4 linked regions of the Homo sapiens genome follow. The protein of the gene in region 1 interacts with the protein of each later gene in a biochemical or structural test. Each region holds a gene or a part of one and is shown in the gene's direction. Other genes may lie near its edges. The genes, in order: INSR, ENPP1, SH2B1 and TRIM72.

Region 1 (5,624 bases):
AAGCGGAGCTACGAGGAACACATCCCTTACACACACATGAACGGAGGCAAGAAAAACGGGCGGATTCTGACCTTGCCTCGGTCCAATCCTTCCTAACAGTGCCTACCGTGGCGGGGGCGGGCAGGGGTTCCCATTTTCGCTTTCCTCTGGTTTGAAAGCCTCTGGAAAACTCAGGATTCTCACGACTCTACCATGTCCAATGGAGTTCAGAGATCGTTCCTATACATTTCTGTTCATCTTAAGGTGGACTCGTTTGGTTACCAATTTAACTAGTCCTGCAGAGGATTTAACTGTGAACCTGGAGGGCAAGGGGTTTCCACAGTTGCTGCTCCTTTGGGGCAACGACGGTTTCAAACCAGGATTTTGTGTTTTTTCGTTCCCCCCACCCGCCCCCAGCAGATGGAAAGAAAGCACCTGTTTTTACAAATTCTTTTTTTTTTTTTTTTTTTTTGCTGGTGTCTGAGCTTCAGTATAAAAGACAAAACTTCCTGTTTGTGGAACAAAAGTTCGAAAGAAAAAACAAAACAAAAACACCCAGCCCTGTTCCAGGAGAATTTCAAGTTTTACAGGTTGAGCTTCAAGATGGTTTTTTTGGTTTTTTTTTTTTCTCTCATCCAGGCTGAAGGATTTTTTTTTTCTTTACAAAATGAGTTCCTCAAATTGACCAATAGCTGCTGCTTTCATATTTTGGATAAGGGTCTGTGGTCCCGGCGTGTGCTCACGTGTGTATGCACGTGTGTGTGTCCATTAGACACGGCTGATGTGTGTGCAAAGTATCCATGCGGAGTTGATGCTTTGGGAATTGGCTCATGAAGGTTCTTCTCAAGGGTGCGAGCTCATCCCCCTCTCTCCTTCCTTCTTATTGACTGGGAGACTGTGCTCTCGACAGATTCTTCTTGTGTCAGAAGTCTAGCCTCAGGTTTCTACCCTCCCTTCACATTGGTGGCCAAGGGAGGAGCATTTCATTTGGAGTGATTATGAATCTTTTCAAGACCAAACCAAGCTAGGACATTAAAAAAAAAAAAAGAAAAAGAAAGAAAAAACAAAATGGAAAAAGGAAAAAAAAAAAGAACTGAGATGACAGAGTTTTGAGAATATATTTGTACCATATTTAATTTTTAAAGTCTCTGGTATTAGCCTCATAAGTTATTGACTATTCCCCGGGGTTGGCGGGGAGTGGGGACATGAGTTGGTCTGCCTGTTGTGGGGCCGGGAAGGGGAGGGAGTCAGGCACAAGTGGCCTCTTTGTTTGGTCTTAAAGGCATCCATTTCTGGGAATGAAGCCATGTTCGCTGCTAACACTTTTGGATGTTGTGAGGCCACGTGGAGTGTGTGAGAGACTAGGTTTTATGGATGGTCTGGTTCAGGTACCAGGTCTGCTGGAAGGTTCCTGTTCGGATAAGCTGGTAGCTACCTAGCTCTGAGCCTGCCTTCAAGAACACCTGTGTTCATCCTCTGATTCTCTGTGTGTACCTCTTGTGGCGTTTCCTCTCCCGGGTGTGAACATCCTAACCGTTATTGTGCAAACCCAAGAACGTCAGATCCCAAAGCACAACAACCTGGATGGACTTTGGGAACATCTAAGCAATGTAAGAGAGAGGTGCACTGAGAGTACGTCTTGGTCCCCTCCACCCTGAGAGCATCTGACGGTCCTCAGTACTGAACTCCCGGAAGCTGCTCTGAGCCCGGTGACCTCATCTGGGCCAGGTGTGGTGCCTGAGCTGAATGCTCAGGTGCTTACAGTGTTGCAATCCCTAAGAGAGTAGAGTCTGGAGGAGAAACCGTGAAAAAGACCTTACACACCACCAAGAACTTCCGAATGGGCGTGAATCCACCGTTTCTTCTCTTTGCAAAAAGAACCACCACAGCTGCTCAAAGAACACAGTGAACTCATCACTTTGGTTCATCAAAAAATCATCGCCCATGCGTTATTCCTGAGTGCATTTTCTTACAACTTTTTGACTGCTTCCTTTTCTTCTTCTCTTAAGAGTTGTGGGCTTAAGAATGGGATAGAGTCATAATGGCAACCTCCAAGCCCTCTCAATTCTTGATTAAGAACACAGGTAGACATGAATCCCAATTGTCTATTGCTATCTTATTTATATGATTCGGGAAAATACAGCATGTAAAAATATTGCTGAGGAGCCTCAGTGATTGGGTACAAGAAGCAAGAGTACAGAAATTATTTTTGCCAAATTTATTTTGTAAATATGAGGGTCTGTACCTAAATTTAAAAAAAAAACACGTAGAACTAGGTATTTTGTTCTCTTCTTAGTAAATTTGTAGTGGTTGTATACTACACTAGCTGCAATTTTCACATTTTTCTAATTCAGAAAGGTTTTTCTTATATTAGGGGAAAAAGTATTTATTTTAATATATAAAATCACTCTGAAAATCACTCTCATAAAAAATGGAGCGCATGTAAATTTTTATCAAAGAAAAATAAACAGGTGAATGGGGGATAGTGATTTTCTTTTTTCAGCACAGTCTACCTCAGTGTATTGTTAAGATGTGATTCAATCATGGACATCTTTGAGATTTCAGAATTCTACCTGGAACCGGTCTGAATCAGGGAACGTGTGTATCAGCTGATTCGAATGCCAGGGACCAGTAAGAATTTTGAGGGAGGGAGTTGGGATGGAGAAGGTATGGCCTTTATGCGAGCATAGATCCTTTTCTTCCTGGCTGGTAATATTCTTCTCTGAATTTAATCTTCCTTTAAAAAAAAATCCTCCATCTATTGTCACTATGTTCCCCAAACATAAACTAAGTTCCAGGCTGTCATGATGTATCTGATATATGGGGTAACCCAGCAAGGTGTACCTTCCTTTGGTGAGAGATGGCTGCCGGGGCAAAGACGGGCTTTGATTCAGAGCAAGCATTCCCACCTGTTCCATGGAATCCCCCTGAAGTGAGCACAAAGGTGCCCTGGGCTCCCTGATGGTTTATGCCCACTCCTTTCAGGCTGGTGATGCACCTTACACACAAACACCTAATGCAATGTCTTTTTAAATTCTCCAAGTGGGATGGGAGCATGTGAGGGAAATTCCAATCCAAAACCCATTAATGTGCTGAACGCTTTTTTTTTTTTTTTTTTTTTTTTTGCAACAACACCTTGGACCTCTGTGTTGGGGTTTGACTGACCTCAAGCTGATATTATTGGACCTTGTGCAGCTTTGATAACCCATGTGAGAGTCTAGGCAGGACCAGTGGGGCCCAAATCTTGCTGCTCTTGTACTTTTAGGCACTGCCCTTGCAGACTCACCTTTCTCCACCTGCCCTGGAGAAAGGTAGGGTGTGCTGGGCCTGCCCCTTGCAAATGGGATTCACCAGTTTCATTTATTTGACTCTACTGCCACAGTGAAAAGAGCAAACAGCTATTGGGTTGCAAACCTCCTTTGACATTAGGAAATGTTGACTTTGTAACAATAAAACTTTGGTCCTAGAAAGACACGGTTGTCCTGGGAGTTTGTAGTGTTAAGTTGCAACAACAACAACAAAAAGCAACAAAACCAGCTTAGGATAACACTTTTTGTTGCTTGTTCTTAAAGATGTCTCACTATGATTAAAACCCTTTTCATTAATGTAGTGAAAGCCACACAGGAGTTCCTTCTTCCAGGAGGAGAATACCAAGCACATCACTTTCTCTCTGCATCAGTGATGTCAAATACGCATCAGAAAATGTTCAGGTTTTAGGAGCTGTCCTAGGTGCTGTTTCATCATTGGAAGCAGTGAGAAAGAGAAGCACTGCTGCTTGTCTGGATATAGGCTGAGGATGATTGAGAGAAGCTGTGGGAACTGACACAAGGGTCTGCATAGGTCATCCTGTGACCCTGGGGACTATGTTACCAACTGACAGACAGATCTTTCACTGTATCCTAGCAGGGCAGGTAGTCCACCAAGAAATGTGCTTATTGGATTGGGAGGTGTTTATTTGTAGTCTGCTGTAACACGTGTGAAAGAGCAGGAGCGTCATCAGCATATGACTTGCGCTGGTCATCCGGTAAATGGATGTGCTGTAGTCCCAGTGCTAATCATTTCTCTCCTTCACAGTGGGTGGAAGTTTAGGGTTAAATGTCCTTTGAATGTCACCTGGTGAGTCCTTGACACCTTAGGCTCTTCAGAAACAATGGTTTTGTTGAGGATGGGGAACAGGGAATGCCGATTTTATATACATGGTACACAGAGAGGGGTGTCACTTCAGAAAATCTTCCAGCATGTTCTTCAGAATATTAATTTATATGCGAGGTGAGGTTGGGAATGAAAAGAACAGGTCAGCACTTTTTTTTTTCCTAGAACATACAAAAGAACATGGTGGACTTTCAGGGAGTGCAATGGAAGGTGAATATTTCCTTAAGGGTCCCCGAGAAATGGGAGTGAGGGGAGGGGACACAATGGCTTTTTGAGCTTACTTTTACCTTCTGATACTAGTCAAGGTCCAGAACCAGCCACCAGCCAAATTTCTATCTGGGTGCGGGCCACTGAAAATCCTTGTTAAAAACCAGATCACAAATCTGGGGCTCTTGGTCCCATTGGAGAAGGAAGGAAGAGCCTCAAAATAAGTGTGCACCCATGCACATATTCAGGAACAGCTTGTTTAGTCTTTACACTTTGCCTGAAAGTTGCTTCTCCTCGTCCCTTTGTGTGCCTGGGTGGCCTCGGCCCTGTGCGTTGGCAACGCAGGATCAAATGTGCTGCAGCTTTTGCAGAAAACAACTCAGAAACACAAAACCCCCCAACAGCTCAATTATTATTTTTTCAATGTTTTCCTACAAGAGCCAAGTAGCACCATGTACAGAAGACGCCTTTTTTTTTGGAATATTGAAATCGTTCTGCATGTAAAATATGGGATAATGACCTGTTTATATTAAAATTCTGATTAAATTATCTGAGAATACGCTTGTTTTTGTGTGGTGTCCCGGTAAGGACCTGTCGTGTGGTCGGGGGATGTGGCTATGAGTTGGGCTGTGTTAAGGAAAACCTCTTGGAATATGTAGGTGCCTTTTTTTAGAGGAGAAAAACACCTAGATTCTTCCACACATGAAAAGGGAGGTTAAATAGTTGCTACCAGCAGAGTTGATGACTCGTAGGGACATACTTGTATGGCCAAACTGGTGGTTTAAATATTGCACTATTTCCATACCATTTGGTAAGTAAGCGCTTCCCCAAGGGCTCCCAGACCTCCCCATGGTCCAACCACTAAAGGGTTCACTCCGAGAATACCAATGAACCTTCAAGATCTTGCTCTATTCTGACATGCGGGAAACTCATATGTTAAGTATTTTCAATGTCATCCTGGGAGTGGAGACCTGTCCCAGGTTGGGTGGACAGGTGAGTGACCATGGGTTAGACCATGGGATTGAAAGCCTTTTGAATAGTCTTTCTTGAGTGGCTTAAAACAGCAACTGTTTATTTATTTTCTTTTTTTGTTTGTTTGTTTTTGTTTTTGTTAGTTTGTTTTTTGAAATGGAGTCTCACTCTGTCACCCAGGCTGGAGGACAGTGGTGCAATCTCAGCTCACTGCAACGCTGTCTCCGGGTTCAAGCAATTCTCCTGCCTCAGCCTCCCAAGTAGCTGGGATTACGGGCGTGTACCACCATTCCCAGCTAATTTTGTATTTTTAG
Region 2 (8,362 bases), on another chromosome or scaffold:
TGGGAGTTTTTGATTATACATGTGCAGAAACAAACTTTTTGAAGTGATGAAATTGTTCCAAAACTGGATCATATTAATAGTTGCACAACTGTATAAATTATTAAAAATCACTGAACTGTATGCATATAATGGGTAGATATGATAATAGGTAAATTGTACTTTAATCAAACTTAAAATTCAGGTTACCTGGCAACCCTACATTTTGTTTGAAATAGAAGTGTAAGAGATAATGAAGGAGTGGCAGATACCGTGGTTAACAAAAAGTGAAGGACTAGAAACCAACTTCCTGTAGCAGGTAATCAGCGACAATCTGGGGCCAGTGGTGTGGGGGTAAAAAGAATTTATGAAGATACTTGTAGGTAAAGAAAGTCATATTTATTAGAGCACGTATGAAAATGTGTTGCAAGGGAACAATGGGCAGGCCAGCAAGAGAGGAGCTGACTGCAAGGAGACGAAGGCTTGCTGGGGATGTTCTAGAATGGTGCTTGTGCTGTGTGCTGAAGAGGGCTTTGTGCAGTACTGATAACACCGAGGTTGCAGTGAATTAGCTTGCATTTTTTTTTAATCACCCGAGGGTCTGATGATAGCTGAGTGCAGGAAGATTGTGAGTTATTTGTGCAAGAGGGCTACATGTTCTGGACCACAAAGCAAGGCAGACTTACAGCTTATCTGCTTTATATTTTTGCTTTCCCTCGGTCCCGCCATCCTGACTCCTTTTCCCTAATTAGAACCCCACACTCTCTTTGGATGGTACATGCGTTTTCCATTTTCCCAGGTTCTATTACTCTCCTTTGGATCTTACACTTCTGAATTCTCTCTATTCGTTTTGTTACCTAACTGATCCCTGTAGGCATCTCTCCTTCATCCCAGAGCAGCAAGAATCCTTTCCTTACCCTCTTTGTAGATGCAGGCCCAATAACAGGTCTCAAACCTTCCCAGAGATTATATATAAACCATGCATAATATAGGAGAAAATTAAATCTTTTTATTCTCTCCCTTAGGGGTAGTGAGTGGTTGATTTACAAATGCAAATGATAGATTTAAATGTTTGTGTAAAGTTGAAATGTCAAACATTTTGTTGGCATTTAGAGATATTATCTGAAAGAGCATTTTACAAATAAGGAAACTAAGGCTCAGAGGCTTCTGGTAATCTGTTCAAGGTCACATAGTTATCCAAGCTTCTTGCTCCAGGGGACATATTTTTGTGCTTTCAAAAAAAGAAAGAAAAATCAGGATGTCATACACATTCTTAAAAATAAATTAATGCCACAGAAAAATGTTTTCCCTAGGCCTCACAAAGATTAAAGAGGCTTGTGGGTTTTTTTTCTGTTTAGATTTGGCTAGATGTCTTTCTTGTTTTACTGGCGAATTAGAAGAAAGCTGGAAAAGCTCTGAAACAGCTGCTAAAATAATTACCCTACAGCATATTTCATTTTTTAATCACTAAGAAAAGTTGTTTCAAAGTAATATTTCAAAGTAATAATTAAACATTGATAAATTGTTTTTGTTTGGTGTTTTGGCCTTATCTACAACCAAAGCTTCAAGCACCAAGACAGAAATGTCTAAATATTTATGTTACAATAAAACTTAATAGAAAACTTACACAAAATCTTAAATTATCATCTTTACTGCTATTCCAGATTAGAGTATGCAATCACTAAAACAGAGTGATTTAGGATTAAGGATGAAACATTCATTGTTCACCTTTGCATTAACCCAAAAATTGTGTTGTGGTTTTATATCTCATGACCTTATTGTACTTTGGAATGTGATGGTGAAGCTGTCCCTCAGATCATTTAGAATAAAGAAGACTGAGGCAATATTTCACTATAGGCTTTGCAATGTCTATAGCTAAACCTGAAAATGGCATATCTGACTCATTTTTTTTTTTTTTTTTTTGAGACAGAGTCTTTCTCTGTTGCCCATGCTGGAGTGCAGTGGCATGATCTTGGCTCACTGCAACCTCCGCCTCCCAGGTTCAAGCAATTCTCCTGCCTCAGCCTCCAGAGTAGCTGGGACTACAGGCATGTGCCACCATGCCCTGCTAATTTTTGTATTTTTAGTGGAGACTGGTTTTCATCATGTTGGCCAGGTTGGTCTCAGACACCTGACCTCAAGTGAACCACCCGCGTCAGCCTCCCAAAATGCTGAGATTACAGGCGTGAGCCACCGTGCCCGGCCTTGGCTCATTTTTATTCTTCCGATTTTAGACTTCCAATTGGGTTTTTATAATTACCCATATTAAGTCCCACCTGGCACAGATGAGGCATGAGCATTAGGCAGAGGCCACATCCTGGTGACGTGTGTGCCAGGTCTGTCCTGCAGATGTGCTACATTTTGTTTGGCTTTTAAACGTGCTACATTTTGTTTGTTTGAAGAAACTGTTTCTCTGAATTTTGTAGACAACATTTTGCAACCGGAGAATTCACACAAACATTTAAATTTCCTGCTTCTCTTGAAAAATCTGACCATCTGCCCACACTGGGCACACAATCCTGTTGAATAGATGCTGCAACCTTTAACATGGCACATGGTTTGCCTTTTGCAGTGTGTATAGGGCTGCCTCAGTCAAATATGGTTCATGGCATATTGTGCTTTCAAAAAAAAGAAAGAAAAACCAGGATGTCATACAAAATCTTAAAAATAAATTAATGCCACAGAAAAATGCTTTCCCTAGGCCTTAAGATGTTTGTGACCCTGGAGACTGCACACTGTGTTTTCCAAATGTTAAGTCTTTAAAGTGGTTCGTTGCCTTGAGATGCAGACAATACACTTCTTCCATTTGTTTTGTCAGGTTTAAAGGCACTTTGGATAATGTCTCTGTTGAGTTGCTTTTAGAGGTTTTGACACTCATTTGACCAGTCTCAGTGGAGCAAATCTTTGTCCTTGAATCTGATTTTTGGAAAGAGTCAAAGGAAAATTTGGAGCCAAGTTTGGGGCAGAAAAATATGTGTGATTATGAAACAGTGAAAACCTGTTTCTCTTGGGTGGTTTGTGAGCTGACTCAAAGGTAACTTTTTAAAAAAGTTCAATAATGCTTTGAGGGAAGGCTTTTACTTCTTCCAGATGTCAACTGTCCTTTCTACTAAGCTCTCATAATATTGAAGTAGCTTTGTTGTCTATGGTGACATCCGAGGTTCTTGGTCTCACGGCCACAAAGATCAAATATGTGGACACACACAAAGGGTGAGGTTTGGAGCAGAATTTTTAATAGGCAAAAGGAGGAGAATAGCTCTGCTACAGAGAGGGGTCCCAAAAAATGGGTTGCAATACGTGGTGAAATGCAGGGGTTTTTATAGATGAGCTAGTGGGGAGGCGGTGTCTGATCTACATAAGGAGGGAAAACCCGGTTTCGTGCATATGGCATGAAAACCCGGTTAGGACCAGGTGTGTCATCTGCATAGGGCTTAAGTGTCTGGCAGCCCCGGCCCCAATCTTCTACTATATAGGCAGGTAGCTACTCCGTGTTGCTTATTTCCTTCTTACTGTGCATGTGGTAAAAAAGAGGGGAGGTGGAACCCCCATGGTGGACATGCCTGGCCCCAGTAGCCCCTTCTGTCTGTGCCGCTGCCGGCATCTCCCGTGCAAGCTTCCAGTTTCCTTACCTATGTTTGCAGCCCAATCTTCCAGGTTGCTCTTTGTTAGAAAGGAAGTGATTTCTTGGGCTGCTTTTTGTTAGAAGGTAAGTTCTGCCGAGGGCTCTTTTGCTCATACTATCTGCCTAAATAATTTCTATCTCCTGTATCAATATCCTATGTGTGACTCTATTCTGCATATATGACTTAGGTTTTAATTATTTTGTTTACGAGTTGGTCCTACCCCCCCACCCCCGCTTCCACCACACTTAAGGAAAGATACATTTTAATTCATTTTTTATATGGTATGCATAGTTGGAGGCCAAAAGATTGAGTTGAAGGATTCATTACTTGATGAATAAATGGATGGGTGGATGGATGAGTCAGTATAAATGAAGAGCATCCCAAGTTGACTATTTTAAAGGGATAACATGCATTTTATATTTGTTAAACATTCATTCTCATTTGTAAACACTTGTATATATTCATGTATTCAAAATGTATTGAAAATTAATTGTTTTCCTTGGTACCTGAAGTCAGTCCTGGGTATTGCAAAGTAGTTCGAAGTCACTGGTTTCCCTCTGTCTCACTTCACTACACACTGGTGATTTTGCTAAGTGATGAGCCAGAAAATGTACAAGTTCCAGAATCAAAGGTAAAACAAAACCCACCAAGAATCAGCTCACTGTTAGCGTCCTAGTTGAAAAATAAGGCTTATCAAAGTATTTCAGATTGCATTAACACTTTTGATATAGCTAGGTATCAGTGTCAACCTCAGGAGAGGGCAACGCCAACTCCTGAAACCTTCAATACAGAAAGTCTAGAAAAATAAGCAAATATACATACAAACAATAGCGAGAAGACTCCAGAAACCACATAAAACCGTGGGAATCGAAATATCCCTTACGTGTGTTCAGTACATGTGAACCCACGTATTTTAAGTGGACGATTTCTCTCTCAGAGTACCGTAGGTAGTGGGGGACGGGGCGCAGAGGGGGAGAAACAGAAAGTCGCCTTCCTCCATGGTTCATTTGCATTTCCATCCAGAAACTCACAGGTCGACCCCAAGACTCCACTCTCTCCCGCCTTTGAGAAGCCGGACCGGCATCGGCGGCTGCATCCTTCTCCTCCTCCCCGCTCTATTTTGGGGCCCCATGATCTCATGCCCTCTGCAGACCACACGCTGCAATTCCAGCCCAGCCCGCGCCGCGAGGCCACGCAGGGCGATTCCTGCAAGTGTCGGGAGGGTGGCCGGGGCGCGGGGAGGGGACGGCTTGGGGGGAAGTTTAAGACACGCCCACGTAAGGGACCCAAAATAACCGACACACAGAGTGCCCGAAATCAGACAGGAAGCCAAATAATCCGGGGCGTTGAGTCGCTTTGCCCTGACTGCGAGAGCCGGGTGTAGGGCGGGGAGCCAAGGATCTGACCGCGAGGGGCGGGCGCGGCGGGGAGGGGCGGGGCGGGGCGGGCGGCGCGGGGCCTATTAAAGGCGCGGCCGGGCAGCGGGGCCGGAGCGGCCGGGGCCACGATGGAGCGCGACGGCTGCGCGGGGGGCGGGAGCCGCGGCGGCGAGGGCGGGCGCGCTCCCCGGGAGGGCCCGGCGGGGAACGGCCGCGATCGGGGCCGCAGCCACGCTGCCGAGGCGCCCGGGGACCCGCAGGCGGCCGCGTCCTTGCTGGCCCCTATGGACGTGGGGGAGGAGCCGCTGGAGAAGGCGGCGCGCGCCCGCACTGCCAAGGACCCCAACACCTATAAAGTACTCTCGCTGGTAGGTCCGCGGCCAGGCCCCGGCGCCCGGGAGGGCTGGGAGTACGGGGAGGGCGGCGCCGAGCTCCTGCGCTCTCAGCGCAGTCAGCACCGGGCACCGGAGAGAGGCATGGTCCGGGAGTGCTTCTTCGCCCGCGCGCTCTCCTCCGCAGCCTTTGCAAGTGCCCTACACAGCCGCCCCTGCCAGGTACCTTGCCAGGGCAGGATGGTTCACTCTCACTTGAATTATGGATGCCTGTGAAAGCAGGCTGTTCAAAACGGTCATCCTTAGAAATACTCGACCCCCTGCCCCAGGAGAGTACGGGTTTTTAGAGGAGAAAAATGTCAAACGCGAAAGTTGTTGGTCTTAAGAAGGTGCATCAATGTGTTGCTTCTTTTAGGGGGCTCTGGGCGCAGTATACATGACTTCACTTGGGTTAACTGATTGCAGTTGAAGAGTTAGCGGAGCTCTTTAAGTTTTATTAGGAACTCTACGGAACACTTTTTCCCTTTCGCTCCGTTTTGGAATTTCCTTGCAGGTGCTCAGAAATTCCATGGATGTTCACATTATGTGACTGAAGAAACCTTTATGATTCTTTGCCCACTCTTCTAACCAGAGGCTACACGGTTTGTGTTGCTAACAAAAGCTACCTATTACTCCTCTGCTATTTTGCTATGACATTTGCAGGACCCACAGTCAACTTCATGAAATGTGGGGGTTGGTTTTTATTCTGAATTCATGGTGGGAAGTGCTGATTGAGAGAAGGCCTGGATTCCTGGCTGTTATTATTTGCTGAGGCCTTGCGTAACTGTCCCTAAACCTCAATTTCTAATGTGTGAAAATGGGACAACATCAACTCCCTTGTGCATTGCATGGGATTATTGTGAAAATCAAGCTGAAGAATGTAGGTAGGGAAGTAAATTGAAAACAGCAAGGAAATAGAATCATTTTTATTGTATTATATGGAAATCACAGATTTCTATGTATAGTGTACCCTAAAATATATCCCCTTACATATGATTGAATAATGCTTTGTAGAAAAATTTCTAATTTTTCAAGTCTCCTTTCATTTTGTATGCATTTCCATTTTCACTATATTTGGGACATCATGGAGATGCTATAATACTTTGAGGAATCAATCTTCCTAGACTTAAGAGATGGTGCCGTATGCTTAGTACTTAAAAAGAAGCCTTAGTTTCACAGAATAAGTACCCCAAGCCACATGATGTTTGCATCTCAAGATAAAATTTTGCATCTTGTAACACTGTTTTGAGTCTATAATAACACAATATTGATGAGAACTTAGTCTCTTGAGTCACCTTTTAAAAATTTTGTTAATGGAAGACCTTAGCTTTTACAACCTGATCACTTAAATTGTTTAGTATTAATACCTTGAGGTGTTTCACACACGATGAGGTAGTCGATAATTGTATATGGAATCAGTGTGTAACTCTTGTGTAAAACCATTTCTACATGCCTATAAACCTTTACAGGTTTTCCAATTGCAAAATTCAGGTTTTAAATTTTTCTTGCTCATTTACTTATACATCCACAACAGATATCAGCAAAGGTCTAGTTTTGGAATAAGCTGTCCAGTCTTTGAGACCTGCAGTCAACTGGTCAAACAGCATTCTGTGTGATGATGCTACTCTGGGCATTTGACATGGAAGTGTCCTAGGACTTACTTCCACAAGTAGGACTATTATGGACCTTTTTTATCCATTAATTGGGGTCTTTTGCATCTATTGAATTGGAAAGAATTCTTACTTCATATCTTTTGATGGAACACTGTGAGACATTAACATACAAATGTTACCAAATAGACCTGGTGCGGTGACTCATACCTATTATCTCAGCACTTTGGGAAGTTGAGGCGGTTCCATTGCTTGAGCCCAGGAGTTTGAGACCAGCCTGGGCAACATGATGAAACCCATCTCTACAAAAGATACAAAAATTAGCTGGGTATGGTAGCATGCGTCTATGTCCCAGCTACTTGGGAGGCTGACATGGGAGGTTCAGCTGAGCCAGGGAAAGTTAAGGCTGCAGTGAACTGTGATTGTGCCACTGCACTTCAGCTTGGGTGACACGGTGAGACCCTTTATTGTTGAAATTGCTATTTAGCTACTGAACTGAAAGTGCAAACTCGTATTCTTCTTTCCCTTCCCTACTTCAATACCTTTTTCCCCCAACCCCGCCCCCCCCCCAAAAACTTCCCCAAATAATGGGCTTCCAAATGGAAAAGGCCCCAAAAGCATCCTGACAATTGTCGTCAAAGAGCTCTGGGATATGTCTTCTAGAAAGGAGCTGCAATTATAGAATTCCTTTTGTTTTCAGATTAAACCTCAGCACACTTTTCATAAAGCTGCAGAAACAGATTGAACTAATTGCAACCTGGGGTTGGGATTAGGAGAGGCCCAGCACTATGATCCTCAGCTACACTGTTTTAATTTAGCAGGATAAATAGAAGAGTTGCGTTGCCTTGCCTTTCAGAGGCAATCATGTTGCAGTGGCAATGTAATTTTTACATTACTCTGCAGTTTTCTCAGATAAACTAAAATGATGTAGATGTGTGAGAGTGGATGAAGGAGTGAGGATTCTGTCCTACCCTGGCTTCTCCCCATTGTGGTGGTTGATCTTAGGAGAGGGCCACCAAGCTGTGCTTTAGAGGCTTTTGGCCCTGGGCCCTGGAATGCTTGTGCCTAGGTACTGAGCCAAACTGAGGAAAACAGCAAGAGGGAAAAACAAGTATTATTCTCTACATGTGTCAGTAGGTATGTTAAATATTAGATGCCTTTCCTTGGTTGTAAATGAAGTTTTGAACTGAAGTGTAGACTTCCACCGAGATGTGTTGACTTGGAGATGTATTTAAATATCCTTCTTGTTTCTTGGTGTGATTTTACAGTCATGTAATTCTCAACTACATTGCAATACATTTCTCCAGTTAGCTCCTCAAAAGCATTTTTTTTGTGTTGTTTGTGACCTTCTGCTATACTTATGAATACATATATCTGTGTATCTGTGTATGTGTAAAGGGCTT
Region 3 (8,161 bases), on another chromosome or scaffold:
TCAAAAAAAAAAAAAAAAAATCATTTATTTGGTTTTTTTTAGAGACAGGATCTTGCTGTGCATGATCTTGGCTCACTGCAACCTCTGCCTCCCTGGTTCAAGCCGTTCTCATGCCTTAGCCTCCCGAGTAGCTGGGATTACAGGCATGGACCACCCAACCTGGCTAATTTTTTTGTATTTGTTGTAGAGATGGGGTTTCACCATGTTGCCCAGGCTGGTCTTGAACTCCCAGCCTCGGGTGATTCGCCTGCCTCAGCCTCCTAATGTGTTGGGATTACAGGTGTGAGCCACCATGCCCAGCCTATTTATTTAAGTTTTATTTTAGGTTTGGGGATACATGTGAAGGTTTATCACATAGATAGACACCTGTCATGGGGGTTTGTTATACATGTCATCACTCAGGTATTAAGCCCAGTACCCAACAGATAAATTCCTTATTAAATGACAAAAGATCACTGGGCGATGAAAGCTGAGCTCATCAGACACCCCTGTTTTATTTGCTGTAGCTATTGGGAAAGCTATACTCTTTTTCTGCCAGGGTTGTTTAAGCTGGTAGAATGAGGCTTGGCTATTTTGCTACTTACGAGATGACAACCTCCCTGAGAATGAAGACAGTCCAGGGAGCCAGGCGTGGGTCATGCCTGTGGTCTCAGCTACTGGGGAGGCTGAGGTGAGAGGACTGCCTCAGCCCAGGAGTTCGAAGCTGCAGTAAGCTATGATTGTACCACTGCACTCCAGCCCAGGTGACAGAGCAAGACCCTGTATCAGGAAAAAAAAAAAGAGAGAGAGAAAAAGAAAGAAAGTCCAGGGAAAAGCAGAACTAAAAGAGACTGAGACCAAGTTCAAATCAACATTGTTTGAGCCTCTGGCTCCAGCCATGCCTGAAGTCATCCTATCTCTGATTTTTCAATTATTTAAACCAATAGACCCCCCCCCCCCGGCTGTTTTCATGTTTAAGTTAGCTGGAATTAGGGTTTCTAGTAGTTATAGCGGAAAGCATCCCGAGTTTTACATCCCTGCTTATGAGGAAGAAGGGTTTCTCCCCTTCATATTAATGCCTTGGCTTAACCTGGGCCCTGGATAACGTCCCCACCAACCTTCTCCGCAACCTTGCTCCTTCAGCGACCATCCTCTCTACTGATTCCTTTCCCCTTAATGTTTCCAACAAAATCAGATCTTCCTCAAGATAGAAACAAACAAGCAAACCTTTCTACCTTCTCACACTTACAACCTGCCTTATCTCTGTCCTCCCCTTTTCAGCCAAACTGTGTAGAACATCTCTCCACATTTTTCCTCCCACTTCTTGAATTTTTTTTTTTTTTTTTTTTACGATGGAGTCTTGCTCTGTCACCCAGGCTGGAATGCAGTGGCACGATCTTGGCTCACTGCGACCTCCACCTCCCAGGTTCAAGCGATTCTCCTGCCTCAGCCTCCCAAGTAGCTGGGATTACAGGTGCGTGCCACCACGCCTGGCTAATTTTAGTAGAGACAGGGTTTTGCCATGTTGGCCAGGCGGGTCTCAAACTCCTGACCTCAGGTGATCCGCCTGCCTTGGCCTCCCAAAGTGCTGGAATTACAGGCGGGAGCCACCGTGCCCAGCCTCCTCCCACTTCTTTACCTTCCACTCATTCCTCAAACCACTACCATTTGGCCTCTGCTGAAACTACTCTCACCAAGTCACGCAGCAGTCTCTTAGTTATCAATGCCTTCTAGAGACCATGGCAGCACACCCTGTGATCCCCCACGGATCCCTTTATATCATTTGTGTTTGTGTTTGCCCATTTCCCCCCGACACACACACATCTTATACTCACTCCCACACTCCCTGGTCTCTGGTATGTGATTTCTGTTCCAACAGTTAGGACTCCAGATTTGTTTTTTTTTTAATTTCTTGAGATGGAGTCTCGCTCTGTTGCCCAGTCTGGAGTGCAGTGGCATGATCTTGGCTCACTGCAACCTCCACCTCCCAGGTTCAAGCGATTCTCGTGCCTCAGCCTCCCAAGCAGCTGGGATTACAGGCACGCGCCACCACACGTGGCTAATTTTTTATATTTTTGGTAGAGATGAGGTTTCGCCATGTTGGCTAGGCTGGTCTCAAACTCCTGACCTCAAGTGATCTGCCCACCATAGCCTCCCAAAGTGCTGGGATTGATAACAGTGGGATTGATTACAGGACTGAGCCACCATGCCCAGCACTTTTTTGTTTTTTGAGATGGAGTCTCGCTCTGTTGCCCAGGCTGGAGTGCCGTGGGACGATTTTGGCTCACCACAGCCTCCGCCTCCCAGATTCAAGTGATTCTCCTGCCTCAGCCTCCTGAGTAGCTGAGATTACAGGTATGTGCCACCATGTCCAGCTAATTTTTGTATTTTTAGTAGAGGTGGGGTTTCACTATGTTGGCCAGGATGGTCTTGAACTCCTGAACTCATGATGCGCCCGCCTCAGCCTCCCAGTGTTGGGATTACAGGCGTGAGCCACTGCGCCCGGCCATCTTAGAACATTTTTTTTTTTGAGACGGAGTCTCGCTCTGTCGCCCAGGCTGGAGTGCAGTGGTGCGATCTCGGCTCACTGCAAGCTCTGCCTCCCAGGTTCACGCCATTCTCCTGCCTCAGCCTCCCCAGTAGCTGGGACTACAGGCACCCGCCACCACGCCTGGCTAATTTTTTTTGTATTTTTAGCAGAGATGGGGTTTCACCGTGTTAGCCAGGATGGTCTTGATCTCCTGACCTCATGATCCGCCTGTCTCGGCCTCCCAAAGTGCTGGGATTACAGGCGTGAGCCACTGTGCCCGGCCTTGAACATTCTTAGGTGAGTCAGGATTTATCCGTCTTCCCCTCTTGGGTTATTTATTTGTCTTCGAGTTCCAGGATGGGCACTTGATCCAATCAGCTACTCAGTTCTGGAAATTTCATTGGGAATCTCAGAAAAGAGGCATGCTCCTTCTAGGAGAGTTGCTAAGCTATTAGGGTTTAAGCTTGGAGCTACAAGAAGCTATTTTGCCACTAAGAGAGGAGAGCCTGCCTGAGGGTGAAGCCAAATGCATAGGGAAGGCAGAACCAGAGATGGTGAGCCACAGGTTCCTGATATCTTCTGGCCCCTGTGTTCACCTGTCTGAATCTGTCCGCTCTGGACTTTTCGATTACTTGGGCCATAGCTTCCTTTACTGTTTAGGCCAGCTGGAGCCGGGTCAATCAGACACTGGATGGGTGGAGGATCTCACTGTGCTCATGCTTTCAACTACCCTCCGTACTTTAATTGTTCTCGATTTCTCTAACTGGCCTTGATGTCTCTTCTTAGCTCCAGACTATATGCCCACAGACGTCCCAAAAGCACGTCTGGAATTGACCTCATTATTATTATTGTTATTATTTTTGAGATGGAGTCTCGCTCTTTTGCCCAGGCTGGATTGCAGTGGCGCAGTCTTGGCTCACTGCAACTTCCGACTCTGGGGTTCAAGTGATTCTTCTGCCTCAGCCTCCTCTCAAGTAGCTGGGAGTACAGGCGCCTGCCACCAAGCCCGGCTAAAATTTTTGTATTTTTATTGCAGATGGGGTTTCACCATGTTGGTCAGGCTGGTCTCAAACTCCTGACCTCAAGTGATCCGCCCGCCTCGGCCTCCCAAAGTGCTGGGATTACAGGCGTGAGCCACTGCGTCCGGCCTTGACCTCAATTCTTTTTTTTTTTTTTTTTTTTTGATAGGGAGTCTAGCTCTGTTGCCCGCGCTGGAGTGCCGTGGCGCCATCTCGGCTCACCGCAACCTCTGCCTCCCGGGTTCAAGCTGTTCTCCTGCCTCGGTCTCCCAAGGGGCTGGGATTACAGGCGCCTGCCACCACGCCCGGCTAAATTTTTTGTATTTTTAGTACAGACGGGGTTTCACCATGTTGGTCAGGCTGGTCTCAAACTCCTGACCTCAAGCCATCCGCCCGCCTCGGCCTCCCAAAGGGCTGGGATTACAGGCGTGAGCCAGCGCTCCCGGCCCTGACCTCATTTTTTTTTTTTCTATTTTTAAAATAGGGATTCTAGTTCTGTTGCCTGGGCTGGAGTGCCGTGGCGCCATCTCGGCTCACCGCAATCTCTGCCTTCCGGATTCAAGCTATTCTCTTGCCTCTGCCTCCGGAGGGACTGGGACTACAGGCGCGCGCCACCATGCCCGGCTAATTTTTGTATTTTTAGTAGAGACGGGGTTTCACCATGTTGGCCAGGCTGGTCTCGAACTCCTGACCTCAGGTGATCCACCTGCCTCGGCCTTCCGAAGTGCTGGGATTACAGGCATGAGCCACTGCGCCCGGCCCTGACCTCATTATTTCTACCCACCCCCTCCCCCACCACTACCACCATCTTCATCTCCAGCCTCAGAGATGCAAACTCCTGGACCGCCTGCCCCTTTCCTCAGATAAACCAAGGTCGTAAGTTCAGGCTCCGCCTCCCCGCAGGGCCTCCCCAAGGTCACCCGCTTCTTTCCTCGCTCAGCTCCTTGGTGGCGTTGTCCGCGTGCCCCTCCACAGCGGGGCCGGCGCTCTAGGCTGCAGCGGGCCGTTCACACAGCCTCATCATCTCGCTGGTTTCCGGTGCTCGGCGGCTACTCTAGCCCTCAGCCGGGCCCTGGGACTCTATCCCCTAAGGCCGGTTCTCTATGGTCGACATCGCCCCTTTGTCCCGAATTTCCTCCGGGAGGACGCTCTGGTGGGATCCAAGCACTTCCCCCGCTGCGTCTGTGGTCGCTTTTAGGTGCAACTGGAGAAGGCACTGAAGCCCTACGAGATTCACACCGTCTTCGGTCTCCTGGGGTCGGCGCCGAGTGGGAGGATGGCGGAAGTAAGTATGAAGGTGCCCTTCCCTCCCGCCGCTGTTCTCTATGGTCTCTTCCTTCAGCGACGGGAAAGGGGGTCCTGACGCCTGCGCGGAACCGGGCTGGGCGCTCGTCGCGTAGTGGGTGGGGGCGCAGGGAGCGGGAGCCGCCGCCGCCGCCGCCGCCGCCGGAGCTAACCTCGGGGACCGAGATGCAGGTGGGACCGGAACCGGAACCCCCCTCTTCAAGTACCTTTTCCCTCTCCGCGACCCGGCCCTGGCGCCCGAGAGGATTCCTGGGTGGGGGTGGGCGTGGAGGGCCGGGGGCTGGAGAGGCACTCGGCCCCGGAGAGTGCAGCAGACAGGGCTGGTCCCGAGGTGGATGCGGCCCCGGAAAATGGGCGGCTGGGGGGTGTCCAGGGAGTAGGGTCGGATCGGAGTATATGGACCACCGGGCCCGGAGGGTCCGAGCCGAGAGCGGAGCCTGCACCCTCCACCTCCCGCCCTTCGGGAAATATCAGAACTGAGCCAGGAGGCAGGTGCACCGGGAAAATGTGTCTGAGTCCTGCTTGGCAGAAGAGAAACTGAGTCACCAGCTTAGGAGTCGCAGGGTCAGCGGGCCTGAAGGGGGCTGGGTCTGTCTGCGGTGCGGAGGATTGGGTGGGCCTGTGTGAGCCGAGGTGGCCGCTGGCTGGAGATTGGTTTGCACTTCTTGGCTGGGTTCCCCCGTGCTCCATGACTCCTGCATCTCCTGATTGTTTCTCGTTGGTTTGGAGTTGTCCCTGCGGTTGGAGCCATCTGAGCTTGTAGGGTCGAGGCCCAGGAGGAAGGGGAGGGTTCACCGACTTACAGCCTGGCTGTAGGTTTGAACAGGAGTCTGAGGTCGCTGAGGGTTTGGGGAGGCTTTCCTGAGCTGCTCTGGCCCCAGTCCTGGGGCTGTCACCTTCCAGTATTGCGTGGCGGGAGGAGCGCTAACAAGAGCCAAGGGTTGTAAATTCCACACCCAGCTCTGCCACTTTCTAGTTGTAAGACCTTGAGAGGGCTCCTCCTTTCTCTAATTTCTATTTTAGAAAATTGGAACAATAATATTCTTCTCCCACATGAAGATAGTAACAATGGCAGTCGTTCAGCGGATGCTTACTTTGCGTTCAGCGCTGACATACCCCATTCCATGTAATTCTCTCAACATTTCGAGGGGAGGGATCATTAGCTTTGTTTAACAGATAGAAAAACGGAGGCTCAGAGAGGACGTGGAATTTGTTCAAGATAACATCGCTCATAAGGTGGCTGGACTGGGTGCTCATAAGGTGGTTTGAGCCCTGGTCTGACTCAAGTCCATGGCCTTAACCAGAAGGCTAACCTGCCTTTAGGGCATACTCCCCAGTGGGAGAAGAGGAAGGTGAAAAATCCTAGGGCCCCAGCTCTCCCTGTGATGTTTTGTTTACGTGAGGCCAGCAAAGACTTGACCTGAGCCAACCCAGTTTCTCCTCTGGGGCCCCTGCGGCCTCTGGCCCCAGACTGAAGGGATACCAAAGAAGTGGGCTGTAGCTATTTCACATCTCCTTCACGCAGTGCGTGGGTGCTGGACTCTGGGGTCAGCTTTCAAGACAATTACTGTTTTGGTCCATCATGCATCCATCCTCATTAATGAATCGGCCCCCTCCAAAGAGTTGGACCCTAAGATGCGTGAGGCAGGCTCTCTAAGGTCTAGAATCCCAGCTCCTCTCTAGCCCCCTGCGAGCTGGGGCGGTGAGGTGCTATGGCTGAGGCTGGCCCAGCCGGGCCCTGGGGACAGGGACTATGAAGTGGGGAAAACAGTAGACTTGGAGTTCTGAAACTTTTCTGAGCTTCGGTTTCCTCATCTGTTCGAGAGGTCTTTGAAACCTCTCAGGGAAAGGTAAGATAACCAAGTGGGAGCCTCTAGAATGGCTCATGGGAAGTGTGACATGAATATTGGAGGATCCGATGTAGAGGGGGGGTGATCTGGAAAAGTTCCCTTTTTTAGGGGGAAGGTGCTCCAAAGCCCTCTACTGCTGGATCCAAAGCTAAGGAAAGTGGGGGCAAATGTGGCAGGCTCGGGGCAGGTTAGACGCTGGGGAGCCAGTTGGCTGGGGCCTGCAGGGTGCCAGGATCTGGGAGAGGGAAGGGAGGTGTTGGGCTCCCTTCCCCATTGCTCTCTGCGGAGTCTGAAGTAGGGTCGGACGTCTCTGGCTGGGGGTGGGATGCAGCCTCCGGTGCGCCCTCAGCAGTGACCCTCGTGTGTGCCTCTCTCTTCCTTTCGCAGCTGCTGCCGCCCACCCCTCGTCTTCTGGCTGCCTCCCTCTTTGTGCCCCACAGGCTCCCCCTCTCCACCTCCTGGGGCCCATCATGAATGGTGCCCCTTCCCCAGAGGACGGGGCCTCCCCCTCGTCTCCCCCGCTGCCCCCACCCCCGCCCCCTAGTTGGCGGGAGTTCTGTGAGTCCCACGCCCGGGCTGCGGCTCTGGACTTTGCCCGCCGTTTTCGCCTCTACCTGGCCTCCCACCCCCAATATGCGGGGCCCGGGGCCGAGGCTGCCTTCTCCCGCCGTTTTGCTGAGCTCTTCCTGCAGCACTTTGAAGCCGAGGTGGCCCGGGCCTCTGGCTCCCTGTCGCCACCCATCCTGGCTCCCCTGAGCCCTGGTGCGGAGATTTCGCCACATGACCTGTCCCTTGAGAGCTGCAGGGTGGGTGGGCCCCTGGCTGTGCTGGGCCCTTCTCGATCATCTGAGGACCTGGCCGGCCCCCTCCCTTCCTCAGTCTCTTCCTCCTCTACAACCTCCTCCAAGCCGAAGCTCAAGAAGCGCTTTTCCCTGCGTTCAGTGGGTCGCTCTGTCCGAGGCTCAGTCCGTGGCATCCTGCAGTGGCGGGGGACCGTTGACCCTCCCTCCTCCGCTGGGCCCCTGGAGACCTCGTCAGGCCCCCCAGTCTTAGGTGGAAACAGCAACTCCAACTCCTCTGGCGGGGCTGGGACCGTTGGTAGGGGACTGGTCAGTGATGGAACGTCCCCTGGGGAAAGATGGACTCACCGTTTTGAGAGGCTGAGACTCAGTCGGGGAGGGGGCGCCTTGAAGGATGGAGCAGGGATGGTGCAGAGGGAAGAGCTGCTGAGTTTCATGGGGGCTGAGGAGGCAGCCCCTGACCCAGCCGGAGTGGGCCGGGGAGGAGGGGTGGCTGGGCCTCCTTCAGGGGGAGGAGGGCAGCCTCAGTGGCAGAAGTGTCGCCTGCTGCTTCGAAGTGAAGGAGAAGGAGGAGGAGGAAGTCGCCTGGAGTTCTTTGTACCACCCAAGGTGAGGCCCCTTGGAGGGTGGGTGACTGAGAGCAAGTGAGAGAGTGCTCAGAGTGGTCACAGCCCTGCA
Region 4 (8,842 bases), on another chromosome or scaffold:
AGGCTTATGCAGGAGAATTGCTTGCCTCCGGGAGGTGGTTCAAGCGCTGTACTCCAGCCTGTGAGACAAGAGTGAGACTCTGTTTCAAAACAAAATAAAAGAGCTCGGCATGGTGGCTCACACCTGTAATCCTAGCACTTTGGGAGGCCGAGGTGGGTGGATTGCCTGAGCTTGGGATTTTGAGATCAACCTGTGCAATATGGCGAAACCCCATCTCTACTAAAACACAAAAATTAGCTGGGCGTGTTGGTGTGTGCCTGTAATCCTAGCACTTTGGGAGGCTGAGGTGGAATAATCGCTTGAACTTGGGAGGCAGAGATTTCAGTGAGCTGAGATGGCCCCACTGCACTCTAGCCTGGGTGACAGAGTGACTCCATCTCAAAAAAAAAAAAAAAAAAAACAAACAAAAAACAAAACAACTTACTTGTTGCATCTTTACAGAAATACATAGTCTTGATACTAATCCTTACATGATTCTCATTTTATAGGTGAGAAAATCAGGTTAAGCGACTTGCCCAAGGTCACACAACAAGGAAATTCTAGTCAGGACTGGAACCTGGAAGTGACAGTCACTGCTTCCTAAGCCCTTGGGTGCCAGCACACTGTCCCTGTTTATGTGGCATATTTTTTTTTCTTTCTTTTTTTTTTTTTTTTTTTGAGACTGAGTTTTGTTCTTATTGCCCAGGCTGGAGTTCAATGGCTCGATCTCAGCTCACTGCAACCTCTGCCTCCTGAGTTCAAGCAATTCTCCTGCCTCAGCCCCCCAAGTAGCTGGCGTTACAGGCACCAGCCACCATGCCCAGCTAATTTTATAATTTTAGTAGAGATGGGGTTTCACCATGTTGGTCAGGCTGGTCTTGAACTCCTGACCTCAAGTGATCCCCCCACCTCGGCCTCCCAAAGAGCTGGGATTACAGGTGTGAGCCACTGCACCCGGCCTATGTGGCATATTTTTCAGTTTAATCCTCATGACAACTCTATGGGATGGTTTTTTTTTTCTTTTCTTTCTGAGACAGGGTTCAAGCAATTCTCCTGGCTCAGCCTTTGGAGTAGCTGGGACTATGGGACTACAGGCGTGAGCCACTATACTGTTTTGTTTGTTTGTTTGTTTTTGGTAGAGACGGGGGTCTCGCTGTGTTGTCCAGGTTGGTCTTGAACTTCTGGACTCAAGTGATCCTCCCACCTTGGCCTCCCAAAGTGCTGGGATTACAGGTGTGAGCCACCACACCCAGCCAGGATGGTGTTATTTATCCACATATTGTATTTGAACGTGCTGAGGCCCAGAGAGGCAGGTGATTTTCCCAGGGGTGCCCAGCATGAGCTCATGAAGTCAGCATTCAGGACTTGCTTCTGTAGCAGCCCTGACTAGGGCTTTCTGGCCTCTCTCTGCATGTACCCAATAATTAGGAGCTCTTACCTTCCAAGGCACTCATTGCTTGAGCTGTTGGGAAACTTTCCCTTAGGACAAGCTGAAATCTATCCCTAGCTCTTTAGGTCTGAGGGACCTCATAGGGCCAGCTATACCGGTTTACCACTCCCTCCTTCCCTGCACATGGCTTATTGCCTCTTCTTGTTCTCAGTCTGCTTAAGACAATCAATGTTCCTTCCGTGGATCAGAGGCCAGTCCTGGCCCATCTGCAGGGAAGGATTGAATTGACTATCACCCACCTGTCTTAGACACCCACTCCTATAGATGACAGCAGGACCTTCAGTCCCAACTTGGCAATATTGGAAACTCTGGATGAGATTTAAGTTCTGGAAGTTGAGTTTTTGAGCATGAGCAACTTGTGGTTTCAGAGACCAGCTCCAGATATACCCTCTTTCAAACCTCTTCCTATTGCTAACACAAGGCTGCGTCTGAGCCATCAAGAATGGAAGAGAAGAAATCAGGGGCTTTTAGCCAGGCATGGTGGTGAACACCTGCGGTCCCCGTTACTCAGGAGGCTGAGGTGGGAGGATCACTTTAGCCTGGGAGGTCGAGGCTGTAGTGAGCTATGATTATAACATTGCACTCCAGCCTGGGCGACACAGTGAGACCTCAGAGACTTAAGGACAAAGAAGGTGGGGACACAAAACTCCCCTGGATTTCTCAGTGTGCCGGTAAAGAGCGCCAGCTTTGGCCGGGCGCAGTGGCTCATGCCTGTAATCCCAGCACTTTGGGAGGCCGAGGCAGGCGGATCACGAGGTCAGGAGATCGAGACCATCCTGGCCAACATGGTGAAACCCTGTCTCTACTAAAAATACAAAAAATTAGCCAGGCGTGGTGGCAGGCGCCTGTAGTCCCAGCTACTCGGGAGGCTGAGGCAGGAGAATGGCGTGAACCCAGGAGGGCGGAGCTTGCAGTGAGCCGAGATCTCATCACTGCATTCCAGCCTGGGCGACAAAGCGACACTCCGTCTCAAAAAAACAAAAAAACAAAAAAACAAAAAAAAAAAAAGGAAAAGAAAAAAAAAAGAGCACCAGCTTCCTGAGACTTTTCACATCTTAATTTCAGAATTTTATCTGCAGTCATTTATACAGGTAATTGCTCTTATCCAAAAGAATAATAGAACTTTTTTTCCTCCTAAAAGAACCAAATGTTTACAGCCTGAACGAGGGCCTAGGTTAAACAAGGTGTCAGGCAGCCTGAAGTAGCTACCTTCTTAAGCAGGCCAGCAGAAGTTCATGCTGTCACCACATAACATGCAAGAAGGAATGAGCGGTCGGGTGTGGTGGCTCATGCCTGGAATCCCAGCACTTTGGGAGGCCGAGGCGGGTGGATCACCTGAGGTCAGGAGTTCGAGACCAGCCTGGACAACATGGTGAAACCCCGTCTCTACTAAAAATACAAAAATTAGCTGGGCGTGGTGGCACGTGCCTATAATCCCAGCTACTCGGGAGGCTGAGGCAGGAGAATCGCTTGAACCTGGGAAGTGGAGGTTGCAGTAAGCCGAGATTGTACCACTGCACTCCAGCCTGGGCGACAGAGCAAGACTCCATTTCAAAAAAAAAAAAAAAAAGAAAAAGAAAAAATTAAGAACCTAAGAGACAGGCAAAGGGAGAGTCCAAAGGGGAGATTAAGAGAGTGAAACAGAAACAAAAATTCATTCTGAGAGAGACAGCAGTTGAGAGAGGAAAGAGTAAAACCAGGAAAAGGTTTGAGGGAAGCTAAGAGAAAGATGGAGAGGCCAAATGAGAGGGACTGAGTTTGCGTGTTTATTCATTCACCTAGTATCTGTAGAGCGCCTAATGTGTGTCACACACTTTAGTCTAAGCTGGAGACAAGCAGTAAACACAATTTCTATTCCGTAGGAAGAGACAGACAAGAAACCAGCAAACAAGTAGAATACATTGCATGTCAGATGCTGATAAATGTTATGGAGAAAAGGAAAGCCAGGCAGTGAGATGTTGGGGAGTTAGGAGATTTAAAATCAGGGAATTGGGAGAGGTCTTGCTGGAAAGGTAATATTGAGCAAAGTCTGAGGGAGGAAAAAGAGGATGCCATGCAGTACCTGGGTTGGAGAGTGTTCCAGGCAGAGGGGACCGTAAGTGCAAAGTCCCTGATGCCGAGTGATCAATGGGGAAAGGGGTGATAAAAGAGTCAGAGTGATTAATGGGGTCATAGCAGATAGGGCTTTGTAAGCCACAGTTAGCACTTTGGTTTTTATTCTAGATGAAATTTCTTTCTTTTCTTTTTTTTAATATTTATTGTTTTTTTTGAGACGGAGTTTTGCTCTTGTTGCCCATGCTGGAGTGCAATGGCATGATCTTGGCTCACTGCAACCTCTGCTTCCCAGGTTCAAGCAATCCTCCCATCTCAGCCTCCCGAGCAGCTGGGACTACAGGTGTTCTTCACCATGCCCAGCTATTTTTTTTGAGTTGGAGTTTCGCTCTTGTCACCCAGGCTGGAGTCCAGTGGTGCGATCTCGGTTCACTGCAACCTCTGCCTCCCGGGTTCAAGCGATTCTCCTGCCTCAGCCTCCCAAGTAGCTGGGATTACAGGTACCTGCCACCACACCCGGCTGAGTTTTGTATGTTTCATAGAGACGAAGTTTAACCATGTTGGCCAGGCTGGTCTCAAACTCCTGACCTCAAGTGATCCACCCGCCTGGGCCCCCCAAAGTGCTGGGATTACAGGTGTGAGCCATTGTGCCTGGCCCTTGCCAACTTTTTAATGGGGTTGTTTTCTGCTTGTTGAAATGTTTAGTTTCTTTATATATTCTGGATAGTAGATCTTTGTTGGATGCATAGTTTGTGAATATTTTCTTCCATTCTTTTTTTTTGAGACGGAGTCTCACTCTGTACCCCAGGCTGGAGTGCAGTGGCGCGATCTCGGCTCACTGCAAGCTCCGTCTCCCGGGTTCACACCATTCTCCTGCCTCAGCCTCCTGAGTAGCTGGGATTACAGGTGCCCGCCACTGCGCCCGGCTAATTTTTTGTATTTTTAGTAGAGACGGGGTTTCACTGTGGTCTCGATCTCCTGACCTCATGATCCACCCGCCTTGGCCTCCCAAGAGTGCTGGGATTACAGGCGTGAGCCACCGCGCCTGGCCTTTCTTCCATTCTTCAGTTGTCTGTCTGTTGATAGTTGCTTTTGCTTTTGCTGTGCAGAAGCTCTTTAGTTTAATGAGGTCCCACTTAACAATTTTTGTTTTTGTTGCTTTTGAGGACTTAGTCAAGAATTCTTTACCAAGGCTGATATCCAGAATAGTATTTCTCCTGCGGTTTCTTCTATGATTTTTATGGTTTGAAGTCTTACATTTAAATCTTTAACCCATCTTGAGTTAATTTTTTTTATATGGTGAAAGGTAGGGGTCCAGTTTCATTCTCTTGCATAAGGCTAGCCAGTTATCCCAGCGCCACTTAAATGAAATTTCAGCTGAGATTTGAAAGATACACATACAGGAACCAGGGCAGAATTGAGTTCTGGGCTGCAGGCTCTGGATTCAGTTCATTCATTTGTTCAATGTCTCTCTATCATTCATTCTCCAAGCATTTAGAGAGGCCTACTTTGTCCCAGGCTTGTCCTGGGTGTACTAGAGAGACCAAAGTGGAAAAGACCCTCCCCTCAGCTCTGGAGGAAGAAAACATTTCAGGGTGGGGTGAGGTCCTGCCCTCCTGCAGGTGGGGTAATCCTGCCAGGGTGACCTTGGTCAGCCATAAACTTGGGGAATGAGTGGGTGACAGGCTGGGGAGGGGCTGCCAGCAAGGAGGAAGGAGCTGGAGAGTGTGGAGGTGGGAGTGGGGGGAGAAAGGGCAGACCCCCTTCAATTTTCTGTCTTTTCTGTGGTGTGAAAGGCCCTGGCTCCCCGCTGGCTCTGAGCTCTGACTCCAGGCAGGCCGGGGAGAGAACAGTGGATGGGCCAAGACAGGTGGCCCTGTCATGTGATGTGTGCCCAGGGACTACTCAGCCCTCACTTTTAGAACGGTTTCCGGAAGTGATGGGAGGGATTGGGCAGGGCAGCTAAATATAGTCCTGGGGCCATGGCTCAGTCTGGGAGGGTCTTCCGCTGAGCACTGTGTGCCCATCACGCGTGGTGTCCACTGCCAGCTGCCCCTGTGAGTCCCTGTCCTTGCTTGGAGCCTGCTGCTTGTCTCAGATCCTTGGACCCAGCCCTGACCCCAGTCCAGCTAAGCTCAACCCTGACCGGTCCTCCTTCGAGACTCTTTCAGCCTAAGATCTCCAACCAGACCTGTGAGTCCCGTGGGCTGGAGAGAGGGGGAGGGGAGGTCTGGGTATCTTGGTAAAGTGAGGGAGGGGAGTCTCGGAGTGGGGGCTCTGGAGAATTTGGGTCCGGGACTAAGGTCAGAGGCTGAGGCCTGGGGCTAAGGCGAGGGCAAGGACAGTGGGCTAGAATCTGGGCTTGTGTTCAGGAACTGGGGTTGACTGATAGGGCATATTTTTGGGGTTGGAGCTGAGAATTGCAGTGGAGGCTGCTTTTGGGCCTGAGACCGAGTTCCTCTTTCCCCTTGGCCGTCAGAGTCCCATCCAGTGTAGGATGTGAGGTCTTTACAGGCTGGGGCTTCTCCCTGCGGGGCGGCGGGCCCGGCCTGGGCTAGGGCTGGGCCAGGGCTGGGCCGGGAGCGCGGCGCCGCGGGGTCCCCCTAACCTACTCCTCCTCCACCCAGGCCCGCCATGTCGGCTGCGCCCGGCCTCCTGCACCAGGAGCTGTCCTGCCCGCTGTGCCTGCAGCTGTTCGACGCGCCCGTGACAGCCGAGTGCGGCCACAGTTTCTGCCGCGCCTGCCTAGGCCGCGTGGCCGGGGAGCCGGCGGCGGATGGCACCGTTCTCTGCCCCTGCTGCCAGGCCCCCACGCGGCCGCAGGCACTCAGCACCAACCTGCAGCTGGCGCGCCTGGTGGAGGGGCTGGCCCAGGTGCCGCAGGGCCACTGCGAGGAGCACCTGGACCCGCTGAGCATCTACTGCGAGCAGGACCGCGCGCTGGTGTGCGGAGTGTGCGCCTCACTCGGCTCGCACCGCGGTCATCGCCTCCTGCCTGCCGCCGAGGCCCACGCACGCCTCAAGGTGCGGGATCCGCGCGCATCGTGGTCGGAGGGGCTGTTCGGTGGCACGGGGCCGATGGGGAGGTCGCTGCAGTGATTTGGATTCTGAGTCTCTAGAGAGGCTCACGAGCTCCTGGAGTTGCGGGGGGCGGGGGCGGGGCGAAGCAGCCAGGAAAGAGGGTCTGAGGAGCTTAAGGCGGGGCTGGCAGAGGAAAGCCGCGCAGGGATGGAGCCTGGCGATAAGGGCGCTGAGCAAACGTAGGTTTCCCGGCCTTAGTCCCTAGAGGAAACTGGAGATGGGCGGGCGGAGCCCCAGGGCGGGTCTGATGGGCCGGGCGGAGCCAGGCGGAGCAGGGACTGACCAGCCCCTGCGGCCCACGCTCGCATTCCTGCACCCGGTGGGCCGTTCGGGCTGGCTCCCTGCTCGGCGCTGGCCCACTTTGGACTGGAGGCGCGGCGTTCGGGACCGAGCCAGGCGGCCGGGGCAGGGTTGTCCCCTTGTGCTCAGCGGAGGCCCACGCACCCCTGAAGCTGCGGAACTTGGGCTGGCCTGACGGTCCCCAGGCGGGGCCTCACCAGAAGGGAGACTGTAAGGGCTAGGCAGCCGGGATCTGCACTTATGTGTGCGGGCCCAGGGTGGCACCGAGAGCCCCGTCCAGGATGTTTTTCTGGGTGGAGCTGGAAGTCCCGAAAGCCTTGGGAGCCCACACGCAGTTGTGCGCGTCCCGAAGTACCCAGCAGAGACACCCAGACAGAGGCAAATAGAGACGAACGCACACTGGCTGGTGCGTGTCATCCGTGTGGCAAAAGCACACACGTATAGCTACCGGCGGGCACGTGTGCGCGCAGCCCCAGTAAAGTCTGCCATGAATATTTATTGGGCAGTGGAAGAATAAATGACAGGTGCAGGGGCTGGAGGAGGCGGGGTCTGGAGGCACGGAGGCGTCCTTGGTCCCCGAGGTGGAGACACTGCTGTTGTCTTACGCGACTGGTGCGCGCGTGGGGCTGGCTTCACAGGCGTTGCATTACTCCTTTTGCCTTGACCCGCCTCCTAGAAGGGGTAGACCACCGTCCTTTCGTTGGTATTCGAGGCCCCCAGACTTCCCAGGGACCCAGCCTCTCAGTCCTGCCTGGCCCAGTTCAGCCCAGTCCTAGCTGGTGGTCTCCTAGCTCAGGGCAGGAGCCTCCTCCCGGGACCCCTCCCATCCCAGCACACCTGTGCTTAAGACCCCAACCTCAGGGCAACCCGCTCGGATCCCCTTCCATGCTGTGGAAGCTTTGTTCTTTTGCTCTTTGCAATAAATCTTGCTGCCGCTAAAAAAAAAACAAAAAACAAACAAACAAAAAAAACCCAACCTCGCCCAACCTTGCCCGTCTTTATCTGCGAAGAAAGCACAGAACCCATGAAACGGAACAGGGCCCAGGCAGCCCAGGAGCCTGGAAGGGGGCAGTGGGGCGAGATGCAGCCCACCAGGGTTCGCGGCAGCCCAGCCCTTCGCCCCCGGGAGGGGCTGGCCGGAGGTCTGAGGGAGGACCCCAGGAGGGACCCTGAAGGAGGGGAACAGGAAGGCTCTGGGCGGGACCTGACGCGTGGGTCCTTGGCGAGGAAGCGGGGTTGGGTCCCGAGATCACGTACCAGCTCAGAGTGGCCCTCACGCAGCCCGCTGCAGCCGTGCGGCCTCCTCCAACATGCGCATGTCGCGCAGCACGGCCACGACGAGCTCGGCTGCGTAGTCCTCGTAGTAGGAGGCGACCAGCTTGTCGGTGAGGTCCACGATATCTAGCTGCCCGAGCGCGCCCCGCGGGATGCGCTCAAAGCCCTCGCGCAGCGGCACCGTCCCCAGCTTCATCTTGAACTTCTTGAGCTCCTCCGGTGTCAGGTTCTCCAGCACCTTCAGGATGGCCTCGCGCTTCGTTCCCATGGCTCAGCCCTGCGCCTCTGAGCCTCCGAGGGCCTGGAGCCATCAGGTCCTACCTTTCCTGCAGCAGGTGGAGCTGCCGCCCCCGGGGATGTCCCGGGAAGGAGACTGATCTGGCAGCTCCTATTCAACCCTGTGGCTCCTGCTGGGAGGGGACTCTGCAAACACCGCCTAGAGGGTCCCCCAGTTTCCCCTGGGAGAGTGGGGGCGCCAAATTGTTGAGGTGGGGATTGCTGTTCCCAATCTGCAGAGGAGGAAACAGGTTGCAAGTCATTGAGGCAGGAATGGAACTGATTCCATGGTCAGGCACCTCCCAGCAAAGAAGTGGCTTTGTAGCCTGGCATGGTTGCTCATGCTTGTAGTGCCAGCTACTCGGGAGGCTGAAGCAAAAGGATTGCTTGAGCCTAGGAGTTCGAGTTGTGATTCTGCCACTGCACTCC

Evidence for each region.
Region 2: the proteins of INSR (region 1) and ENPP1 form a complex in vitro, tested with the Homo sapiens proteins (one study listed by BioGRID).
Region 3: the proteins of INSR (region 1) and SH2B1 form a complex in vitro, tested with the Homo sapiens proteins (one study listed by BioGRID).
Region 4: the proteins of INSR (region 1) and TRIM72 form a complex in vitro, tested with the Homo sapiens proteins (2 studies listed by BioGRID).

What each region holds. Positions count from the first base shown.
Region 1 is NC_000019.10:7,111,528-7,117,151, reverse strand, and holds the end of INSR (insulin receptor isoform Long preproprotein), read left to right. Parts: coding exon 1-96; 3' UTR 97-4,887; downstream 4,888-5,624. UniProt on the Homo sapiens protein: Receptor tyrosine kinase which mediates the pleiotropic actions of insulin.
Region 2 is NC_000006.12:131,802,930-131,811,291, forward strand, and holds the start of ENPP1 (ectonucleotide pyrophosphatase/phosphodiesterase family member 1), read left to right. Parts: upstream 1-5,090; 5' UTR 5,091-5,106; coding exon 5,107-5,346; intron 5,347-8,362. UniProt on the Homo sapiens protein: Nucleotide pyrophosphatase that generates diphosphate (PPi) and functions in bone mineralization and soft tissue calcification by regulating pyrophosphate levels.
Region 3 is NC_000016.10:28,858,942-28,867,102, forward strand, and holds the start of SH2B1 (SH2B adapter protein 1), read left to right. Parts: upstream 1-4,901; 5' UTR 4,902-7,153; coding exon 7,154-8,092; intron 8,093-8,161. UniProt on the Homo sapiens protein: Adapter protein for several members of the tyrosine kinase receptor family.
Region 4 is NC_000016.10:31,208,624-31,217,465, forward strand, and holds the start of TRIM72 (tripartite motif-containing protein 72), read left to right. Parts: upstream 1-5,495; 5' UTR 5,496-5,674; intron 5,675-6,108; 5' UTR 6,109-6,115; coding exon 6,116-6,505; intron 6,506-7,338; exon of another isoform or gene 7,339-7,534; intron 7,535-8,119; exon of another isoform or gene 8,120-8,135; coding exon of another isoform or gene 8,136-8,405; exon of another isoform or gene 8,406-8,512; intron 8,513-8,842. Other genes in the region: PYDC1 (pyrin domain-containing protein 1), read right to left, coding at 8,136-8,405. UniProt on the Homo sapiens protein: Muscle-specific E3 ubiquitin-protein ligase that plays a central role in cell membrane repair by nucleating the assembly of the repair machinery at injury sites.